Regions from separate parts of the Homo sapiens genome. Here region 2 is reported to be linked to region 1. The links are microRNA targets in miRTarBase. Many come from high-throughput screens and were not tested one by one. Region 1 holds a microRNA gene; the other region holds the end of a gene's coding sequence.
The links. Region 1 holds the annotated microRNA hsa-miR-320d (AAAAGCUGGGUUGAGAGGA, at 2,065-2,083, shown strand). A microRNA usually pairs through its seed, bases 2 to 8, with sites in the 3' UTR of a target mRNA and lowers its output. Matches are read on the target gene's strand: a 7mer-m8 pairs with bases 2 to 8, a 7mer-A1 pairs with bases 2 to 7 and ends in A, and an 8mer does both.

Region 2: the mRNA of CKS1B is a reported target of hsa-miR-320d. Seed matches in the 3' UTR shown: 7mer-A1 at 1,006-1,012.

Annotation. Positions count from the first base shown.
Region 1 is chr13:40,724,738-40,729,910 of GRCh38, reverse strand. MIR320D1 (microRNA 320d-1) reads left to right here and starts at 2,024; the gene lies at 2,024-2,095. MRPS31 (mitochondrial ribosomal protein S31) reads left to right here. Exons shown (of 7, transcript NM_005830.4): 7 at 310-783. The coding sequence ends at 539.
Region 2 is chr1:154,977,799-154,982,798 of GRCh38, forward strand. It overlaps CKS1B (CDC28 protein kinase regulatory subunit 1B), which reads left to right. Exons shown (of 3, transcript NM_001826.3): 2 at 189-316; 3 at 927-1,453. The coding sequence ends at 979. Among named protein-coding and RNA genes, the nearest start is that of FLAD1, 3.0 kb to the right of the region's middle. RefSeq lists enhancers at 3,601-4,198, 4,799-5,000.

The DNA.
Region 1 (5,173 bases):
TAAAAATAAAAAAATTAGCTGGGCGTGGTGGTACATGCCTGTAGTCCCAGCTACTCGGGAGGCTGAGGCAGGAGAATCGCATGAAACCCAGAAGGCAGAGGTTGCAGTGAGCTGAGATCGTGCCACTCCACTTCAACCTGAGCAACAGAGCAAGACTCCATCTCAAAAAAAAAAAAAAAATGCAACCTAGGTCTAACTCCAAAGTTCATGCCTTAAACTGTAATATTATATTACCTCATTAATATTATTTTTATGATGTAGGTTTTGTATTTAAAATTATAATGTAATGTATTTGGTCTCATTTCCTAGGTTTTGATGATGATGGTTCAGAATTTCATGAACATATATTTCTGGAGAAACACCTGGAGAGCTTTCCAAAACAAGGACCAATTCGCCACTTCATGGAGCTGGTGACTTGTGGCCTTTCCAAAAACCCATATCTTAGTGTTAAACAGAAGGTTGAACACATAGAGTGGTTTAGAAATTATTTTAATGAAAAAAAGGATATTCTAAAAGAAAGTAACATACAGTTCAATTAAGACCATGGAAATTTTTATTTCAAACAATTAGAGATGGATATTACAACTAAATAAAATAATTTTACTAGAGTTTGTATATGTTATGTTGATTATTACATTTGATTTGGCTGGTATAAATGTTACATTGTTTTCAAAAATATGATGGTAACTGAAAAATATTCTTGCATGGAGAAAAATCATCAGTATTCATAGGTTCAAAAGAATATCTGGGAATTAGTAATACATTTAAGACAACAACTCCTAACCTTTTTCTTTTCACTCGGTGACCATACTTCTTTGAAATACAATACAATTACTGGATGATATCACAGTACTATGTTATAAGAGTTGAGATGATTTATAGACAGATATATATGTACATACGTTTATTTGTTTACATTTATACATATATTTTACACTAAATTAACTACCCTCACCTAAGTCTGGGTCACTATAGAGAAATTAATCTTGTAGAAATAAAGGGTTTATTCTAATCCATTCTAGTACTTTAGGTCTTCATGCCAAAGTTAGAATTATTTCTTTTCCATTATGCTGCTGAGCAGCGTGACTCAACTTTCATACAATTCAAAGGATTGAGGGCTGGGCACAGTGGCTCATGCATATAATCCCAGCACTTTGAGAGGCCGAGGCAGGAAGATCACTTAAACCAACGAGTTTGAGACCAGCGTGGGCAACATAGGGAGACCCTGTCTCTACAAAAAATTAAAAAATTAGCCGGGCGTGGTAGCATGCACCTGTAGTCACAGCTCTTCAGGGGCCTGAGGTGGGAGCATCCCCTGATCCTAGGAGGTTAAGGCTTCAGTGAGCTCTGATTACACCACTATGGTCTAGCCTGAGTGATAGAGCAACTCTGTCTCAAGAAAAAAAATTTTTTTTTTTTATTCTTTTTTAGCAGAGCCTTGCTCTGTCACCCAGGCTGGAGTGTAGCGGCGTGATCTCGGCTCACTGCAACCTCCACCTCCAGGGTTCAAGCAATTCTCCTGCTTCAGCCCCTCAAGTAGCTGGTATTACAGGTGCCCACCACCACACCCAGCTAATTTTTTTGTATTTTCAGTAGAGACGGGGTTTCACCATGTTAGCCAGGCTGGTTTTGAACTCCTGACCTCAAGTGATCTGCCTGCCTTGGCCTCCCAAAGCTCTAGGATTACAGATGTGAGCCATGGCACCTGGCCTAAATTTTTTTTAAGGTTCAAGGATTCTAAAAAAACTCAAAACAAGATTTAGTTGACAGTGGTCCCAAGCTAATAGTGTTCCAGGTCAACAGGAACCGTGTGAAGGAATCCACCATAACAACAGCCTTCAAATGACAAAACACACAAGGAAGCAAAACCATGAATGTGTACCAGCAGAAACGAGAACAGAATCAGACTCATAAAGCCTCTGAATATTGGGCTTATCAGAGTCAGAATATAAAATATGTGTAAGATAGAATGAATATTGAGCAGGATGCTTTAAAAGTGACCAAGCAGATTTGAAAAACATTAAAAATGTTGGCCTTCTCGTCCCAGTTCTTCCCAAAGTTGAGAAAAGCTGGGTTGAGAGGATGAAAAGAAAAAAAAAGAAAAATTTAGTGGAGTTTAACAGCAGTAAAGAAGTATCCATATGCAGCAGAGAGAAGCAAAGAGGAAAGAAATAGGAAAGGAAAGTAAAAGAGTAACATTTGTACAATCGTATTGCCAATAGGAAAGAAAAGAGAAAATAGGTCAGAGGCTAACTCTAAATAATTGTTTTTTTTTTTTCATTTTTTTAATTGAGACAGAGCCTCGCTCTGTTGCCCAGGCTGGAGTGCAGTGGCATGATCTCAGCTCACTGCAACCTCCGCCTCCCAGGTTCAAGCGATCCTCTTGCCTCAGCACCCCCTAGTAGCTGGGATTACAGGCACGTGCCAACATGCCTCGCTCATTTTTTTTTTTTTTTCTGAGATGGAGTCTCACTCTGTTGCCCAGGCTGGAGTGCAGTGGCGCAATCTGGGCTCACTGCAAGCTCCGCCTCCTGGGTTCACACCATTCTCCTGCCTCAGCCTCCCGAGTAGCTGGGACTGCAGGCGCCCACCACCACGCCTGGCTAATTTTTTTGTATTTTTAGTAGAGACAGGGTTTCACCGTGTTAGCCAGGATGGTCTCAATCTCCTGACCTCATGATCCGCCCCCCTCGGCCTCCCAAAGTGCCGGGATTACAGGCATGAGCCACTGCGCCCGGCCATGCCTGGCTAATTTTTGTATTTTTAGTCGAGACGGGGTTTCGCCATGTTGGCCAGGCTGGTCTTGAACTCCTGACCTCAGATGATCCACCCACCTCAGTCTCCCAAAGTGCTGGATTACAGGTGTGAGCCACCGTGCCTAGCCTCTAAATAGTTAATGGGTGAGAGTTTTTTACAATTCATGAAAGATACTAATTCACAGTTAATCAACAATCCCTTGGCCAGGTGTGGTGGCTCATGCCTGTAATCCCAGCATTTTGGGAGGCAAAGGTGGGCAGATCACTTGAGGCCAGGAGTTTGAGACCAGCCTGGCCAACATGGCGAAGCCCCATGCCCGGCTAAAAATATAAAATGTAGCCGGGCATGGCGGTACATGCCTATAGTCCCAGCTACTTGGGAGGCTGAGGCATGAGAATTGCTTGAACCCAGGAGGTGAAGGGTGCAGTGAGCCAAGATCACCCCACTGCACACCAGCCTGGGTGACAGAGTGAGACTCTGTCTCAGAAAGAAAAAGGCAAAAACAACAATCTGTTGGTCATGTATAGAAACTGCTCCCAATAACAGCAGAATACATTTTTTTTTCCAGTACACATGAGACACTGAAAATTTTTTATTTTTATTTGGGTGTTTAGTTTGTTTATATTTACCACAGTTACTGATATATTTGGAATGTCTTTCAGAAATGAGGGCTAAATGCATTTGTCAAACAAAAACAGTTGGCTACCAGCAAACTTTCATTAAAAGACTCCTAAAGTTGTACGTCAGGCAGAAGAGAAATGATTTTAAATTTAAGGCCTGAGATGCAAGAAGAAAATGGCAGATGAATAAAGCAGTGAGTATGCTGCTGGCTCACTCTCTTTCAGCAGTGTGCTCTGCCTCAGTGTTCAGAGTATGTCTTTATAAACTCTCTGCTCTCTATTGCCCTTCAATAAGCTGTCTGCTATTAAAAAAAAAAGTAGTGAATATATATTTTAATTCTAAGCACTAATAAAACAGTCATACCATATGGAATTAATTAAAATACATGACAGTAGAATATGTCCAAGTGGATTATTTATTTATTTATTTATATTTTTATTTATTTATTGAGACAGCTTCGCTCTTTTTGCCCAGGCCAGAGTGCAGTGACACGATCTAGGCTCATCACAACCTCCGCCTCCCAGGTTCCAGCAATTCTTCTGCCTCAGCCTCCCGAGTAGTTGGGATTACAGGCACACACCACCACGCCTGGCTAATTTTTTATTTTTATTAGAGAAGGGATTTCACCTTGTTGGCCAGGCTGGTCATGAACTCCTGACCTCCAGTAATCCACCTGCCTCGGCCTCCCAAAGTGCTGGAATTACAGGTGTGAGCCACTGCACCTGGCTGGGTTTTTTTAAATGTCAAGTGATAACACTATTTACTGGAGTTATATGTAAAGCAAGAATACAGAAAGGTTGAAAGTAAAAGGTAAGCTGGTATAGCTATATTAATATCAGGAAAAAAATAGTCTGAAAGACATTAGAAACTTAAAAAAATTCTGTTTATCAGAAAAATACAAAGTTGTACATACCTAATAACATGACTCAAAATATACAAGGCAAAAGCTGATAGAAATACAAATAAATATACCATTATGATAAAATATTTTAACGTAATAATTGATGAACTCAGCAGACAAACAGAAGCTTTGCTATACCTAATTATCTTGACCTAATGGAAATTTGTAGACCATTACACAGTGATCTAAATAGCTGCAAATACATTTATTTCAAGCACACATGTTGATAAATCAATCATAAACTTAGTCATAAAGCATATCTAGACACATTTCAATGGAATGTAGAACATGTTTTCCAATTACATTGCAAGTAAGTTAGAGACCAGTAACTGAACGCTAATCAGGAAAACTCCCTATGTTGAGAAATTTTAAAACCCTTTTAACTTATTCATAGGCCAGTGAAAAAAATATTCAGGCCAGGCGCGGTGGCTCACGCCTGTAATCCCAGCACTTTGGAAGGCCGAGGCAGGCAGATCACCTGAAATCAGGAGTTCAAGACCAGCCTGGCCAACATGGTGAAACTTTGTCCCTACTAAAAAATACAAAAATTACCCGGGTGTGGTGGCACATGCCTGTAGTCCCAGCTACTTGGGAGGCTGAGGCAGGACAATCGCTTGAACCTGGGAGGTGGAAGTTGCAGTGAGCCGAGATTGCGTCACTGCACTCCAGCCTGGGCGACAGAATGAGACTCCATCTCAAAAAGAAAAAAAGAATGAAAATCAATGAAGTAAGGTTATAATCTTAAGATATAAGAAAAGGAACAAGTGGTGTTTTTTTTTTTTTTTTTAAATCTGTTCTGTTGTTGTTGGTGGTGGTTTTTTTTTGAGACAGAGTCTTGCCCAGGCTGGAGTGCAGTGGCACATGGCTCACTGCCGCCTTGACCTGGGCTCAAGT
Region 2 (5,000 bases), not on the chromosome of region 1:
AATATACTCTCGGAATTTATATAACATAGCCTGTATTTCTAGCTGCTGCTACCCCACAATAAAATTATATAAACTCTGACATCAAAAACCAGTTTTTCTTTCCTTTCTTGGCCTTGTAAACAGGCATTTGTCTAAGAGACTGTATCTGGTACTAACATAAATTCCCCACTTCCCCGTTTCTGTTACAGACATGTCATGCTGCCCAAGGACATAGCCAAGCTGGTCCCTAAAACCCATCTGATGTCTGAATCTGAATGGAGGAATCTTGGCGTTCAGCAGAGTCAGGGATGGGTCCATTATATGATCCATGAACCAGGTCAGTGCACTGGCTAAAAACAACCATATAGAACTGCTACACTGAGAGAATGAAAGAATAAGATTGTATAACCCAAATAGGGAGATAGGAAATGGTTTACTGGTTCCTTCCCCCTCCAGTCGTGGGGGATTTTTTTAAAAAAAAACTAGTGACCAAAAATAAGACTAAAATATCTGGGAAGTTCAGAGACAACCTGTCACTGAAAAACCTCCTGTAATCTTTCATTCAATCAGAGGGTATTCTTTTTAAGGCCACATATAGCCTGATCATAGCCCCTGCCTCATTCTCCATCGAAAACATTCTTGGATGTGTTCTAAATAAGCAAAGGAAAGTATATTTATTGATAAGACACCAGACACCCAGCTGCCAGGCAAAACTAATAAGGGACACCCTGGGGCTGTATAAACATAGCAAAAGAACTGATATTAACAATTCTGTACTTGGCAGACAGTCCAGACTTCTGGGTCTGCTTCTAAGGCCATATGCTTAAGTCTTTATTTAGTTATAAAGATCTGAGTGGGTGATAGCTGGGGAGGTGGTAGTGGAATACACTATAGGTTGTACATAGAATGGTGTGAGCTTGTCTCTTAGATTTCCCTCACTCTTTCAGAACCTCACATCTTGCTGTTCCGGCGCCCACTACCCAAGAAACCAAAGAAATGAAGCTGGCAAGCTACTTTTCAGCCTCAAGCTTTACACAGCTGTCCTTACTTCCTAACATCTTTCTGATAACATTATTATGTTGCCTTCTTGTTTCTCACTTTGATATTTAAAAGATGTTCAATACACTGTTTGAATGTGCTGGTAACTGCTTTGCTTCTTGAGTAGAGCCACCACCACCATAGCCCAGCCAGATGAGTGCTCTGTGGACCCACAGCCTAAGCTGAGTGTGACCCCAGAAGCCACGATGTGCTCTGTATCCAGAACACACTTGGCAGATGGAGGAAGCATCTGAGTTTGAGACCATGGCTGTTACAGGGATCATGTAAACTTGCTGTTTTTGTTTTTTCCTGCCGGGTGTTGTATGTGTGGTGACTTGCGGATTTATGTTTCAGTGTACTGGAAACTTTCCATTTTATTCAAGAAATCTGTTCATGTTAAAAGCCTTGATTAAAGAGGAAGTTTTTATAATCTAGTGCTGTAATTGTACGGGTTTTTTCCCCCTCACTCAGGGTGAGCATCATCAATATCATGGTTCTAATTATATGCCCTTCAGTTTGATAATGAAGCTCAGCTCTTTGCTGATAATGAGGTTTAACATTGAGATAACTGGTTTTTAATCTACTTTAAGCAGACTTGCTGTCAAACATCTACTGAAATATATTTCACTCTAACTACTAGCCTGAGGTAGAGGTTATATAGGGACAACTTCATCTCATCCAAACAAATGAACTGCTTCCTACAGTCGGGGTGCTGCCTTTAACATAGTCCCAATATTTGAATGGCACACATGGATAAAAGGATGCTGTCAGTCAGGGGCTGCTTGTGTGTCCCAATTCCTAATAGGAATAATAGGCATATCTATGACCTATTCACTGTGCCCCTTGGTTGGGGAAGGTTTTCAGCTGTTCTTAACTTGGCTTGGGCGTTGGAATCACCTGGGGAGCTTTACAAGTACTGATGCCTGCCTGAGTCATTCTTAAGGATTCTTAATTGGTCTGGAGTGTGGACTGGGGGTAAAGATTTCAGGCATCTTATGCAGGTAGGTAAAGAACTAAGCTTTGAGAAAACAGGTGCAAAATGTAGCTGTTTAAGAAAACATTCCAGGCCACACGTGGTGGCTCACACCTGTAATCCCAGCATTTTGGGAGGCTAAGGAGGGCAGATCACTTGAGGTCAGGAGTTCGAGACCAGCCTGGCCAACATGGTGAAACTCCCGTCTCTATTAAAAATACAAAAATTAGGCTGGGTGCAGTGGCTCATGCCTGTAATCCCAGCACTTTGGGAGGCTGAGGTGGGTGGATCACCTGAGGTCAGAAGTTTGAAACCAGCCTGGCCAACATGGTGAAACCCCATCTCTACTAAAACAAAATTAGCCGGGCGTGGTGGCACACGCCTGTAATCCCAGCTACTCCGGAGGCTGAGGCAGGAGAATCACTTGAACCTGGGAGGCAGAGGTTGCAGTGAGCTGAGATCACGCTATTGCACTTCAGCTTGGGCAACAAGAGTGAAACTCTGTCTCAAAAAAATAAAAATAAATTAGCCGGGCGTGGTGTGTGCCTGTAATCCCTGCTACTCAGGAGGCTGAGGTGAGAGGATCGCTTGAACCCGAGAGGCAGAGGTGAAAGTGAGCCAAGATCACACCACTGCACTCAGCCTGGGCGACAGAAGCTGTGTCTCAATTTAAAAAAAAAACATTCCACAGAATAATAACTTCCCCTCTAGTCTAACAAAACAGTAGTACTAAGTGGCCGGGCGTCGTGGCTCACGCCTGTAATCACAGCACTTTGGGAGGCCGAGGCTGGCGGATCATGAGGTCAGGAGATCGAGACCATCCTGGCTAACATGGTGAAACCCTGTCTCTACTAAAAATACAAAAAAATTAGCTGGGCAAGGCGGTGGGCGCCTGTAGTCCCAGCTACTCGGGAGGCTAAGGCAGGAGAATGGCGTGAACTCGGGAGGCGGAGCTTGCAGTGAGCCGAGATTGCGCCACTGCACTCCAGCCTAGGCGACAGAGCCAGACTCCGCCTCAAAAAAAAAAGAAAAAAAAATACTAGTACTAAGTAAGGATATTAATCTCCCCCATTTTTCCTGTCTTCCATCCACTTATTCCTAAAATAGCAGGCATCAACATCGGGAAAATTCATTAGAAATGCAAATTATTGGGCAACAACCTAGACCTACTGAATCCTAAACTCAGGATTGGGCACAGCAATGTTTTAACAAGCTCTCCAGCTGATTCTGATGTACACTTAAGCTTGAGAATCCACTAGGAAAATACTGGAACAGTCTTGGTATTCTGTTTTGGGAGGGGATCAAATATCACCTGTATTGCTAATAAAGATATTGGAACATGTGGTTTACTAGGCAAGTGGAATTCTTGTTTTGCCCTTTTTTTTTTTTTCAAAGAGCTGACTTTTTATAATTGAAAGAAATGAGGGCCAAGTACGGGGGCTCACACCTGTAATCCCAATACTTTGGGAGGCCAAGGCAGGGAATCACTTGAGCCCAGGAGTTCAAGACCAGCCTGCGCAACATGACCAAACTCCGTCTCTACTAAAAATACAAAAATTAGCCAGGCATGGTGGGGCGCCCCTGTGGTCCCAGTTACTCTGGAGTCTGAGATGGGAGGATCACTTGAGCCCAGGAGGTCGAGGCTGCAGTGAACGGTGCTTGCGCCACTGCACTCGAGCCTGGGCAACAGAGAGACCCTGGTTCAAAAAAAAAAAAGGGAGGGGGGGCTTATTACTTAAAAGAATGGTCTAGACACCTGATCACCTGGGTCCACCATTCACTGTGTTTTGTGGTTGTGTGGCATCCCTTCACCTTTCTGAGCCTGTTCCTCATCTGTAAAATGAGCATGATGTGTATCTTACAGGGTATTTTTTTTCTTTTTGATGGAGCCTCGTTCTGTCGCCCAGGCTGGAGTGCAGTGACACAATCTCGGCTCACTGCAAGCTGCGCCTCCCGGGTTCACGCCATTCTCCTGCCTCAGCCTCCTGAGTAGCTGGGACTACAGGCTCCCGCCACCACGCCCGGCTAATTTTTTGTGTTTTTAGTAGAGACGGGGTTTCTCCATGTTGATCAGGCTGGTCTCCAGCTCCTGACCTCAGGTGATCCGCCCGCCTCGGCCTCCCAAAGTGCTGGGATTACAGGCGTGAGTCACCGCGCCCGGCCTTTTTTTCTTTTTTTCAATTGAGAGAACTCAAGCAATCCTCCCTCCTCAGACTCCCAAAGTGCTGCGCCCGACCAAGGGTTTTGAAGAGTAAAATTTGGCAAGGTGTGGTTTACCAGTCCTACAAAGAATGAATTCGGCCCGGCGCGGTGGCTCACGCCTGTAATCACAGCACTTTGGGAGGCCGAGGCGGGCGGATCACGAGGTCAGGAGATCGAGACCATGCTGGCTAACACAGTGAAACCCCGTCTCTACTAAAAAAAAAATGAAAATAAAAAAATTTTTAAAAAAAAGCCGGGCATGGTGGCGGGCGCCTGTAGTCCCAGCTACTCGGGAGGCTGAGGCAGGAGAATGGCGTGAACCCGGGAGGCGGAGCTTGCAGTGAGCCGAGATCGCGCCACTGCACTCCAGCCTGGGTGACAGAGGGAGACTCCGTCTCAAAAAAACAAAGAATGAATTCGGGCCCTTACCATTCAAAATGTAGTCCATAGAGCAGTGGGATCACCATCACATGGGAACTAGCTAAATGCAGATCTCAGGCCCCACCCAAACCTACTGAATCAATCTGCATATGAAAAGATCCCCAGATTATTGTTGGAAAAAAGTTTAAGATGTACTTTTAGAACAAAGGCAACTGAAATGGGGGTAAGCTCGGATGATGTGAGGATCCAGAGTAAACATGTAAGGCACTCCCTATTCGCTGCCTCATTTGCACCTACAAGACCAATTACTGGGAAAGGTCATTTGAACTAAGCACCATCTGGAGCAAGGTGGAGGAAGAGAGGGTTTTTGGACTCTTTCTTGTCAAAGAGATTTAAGTAATTCGTTTTGTCTACTATACTAGAGATA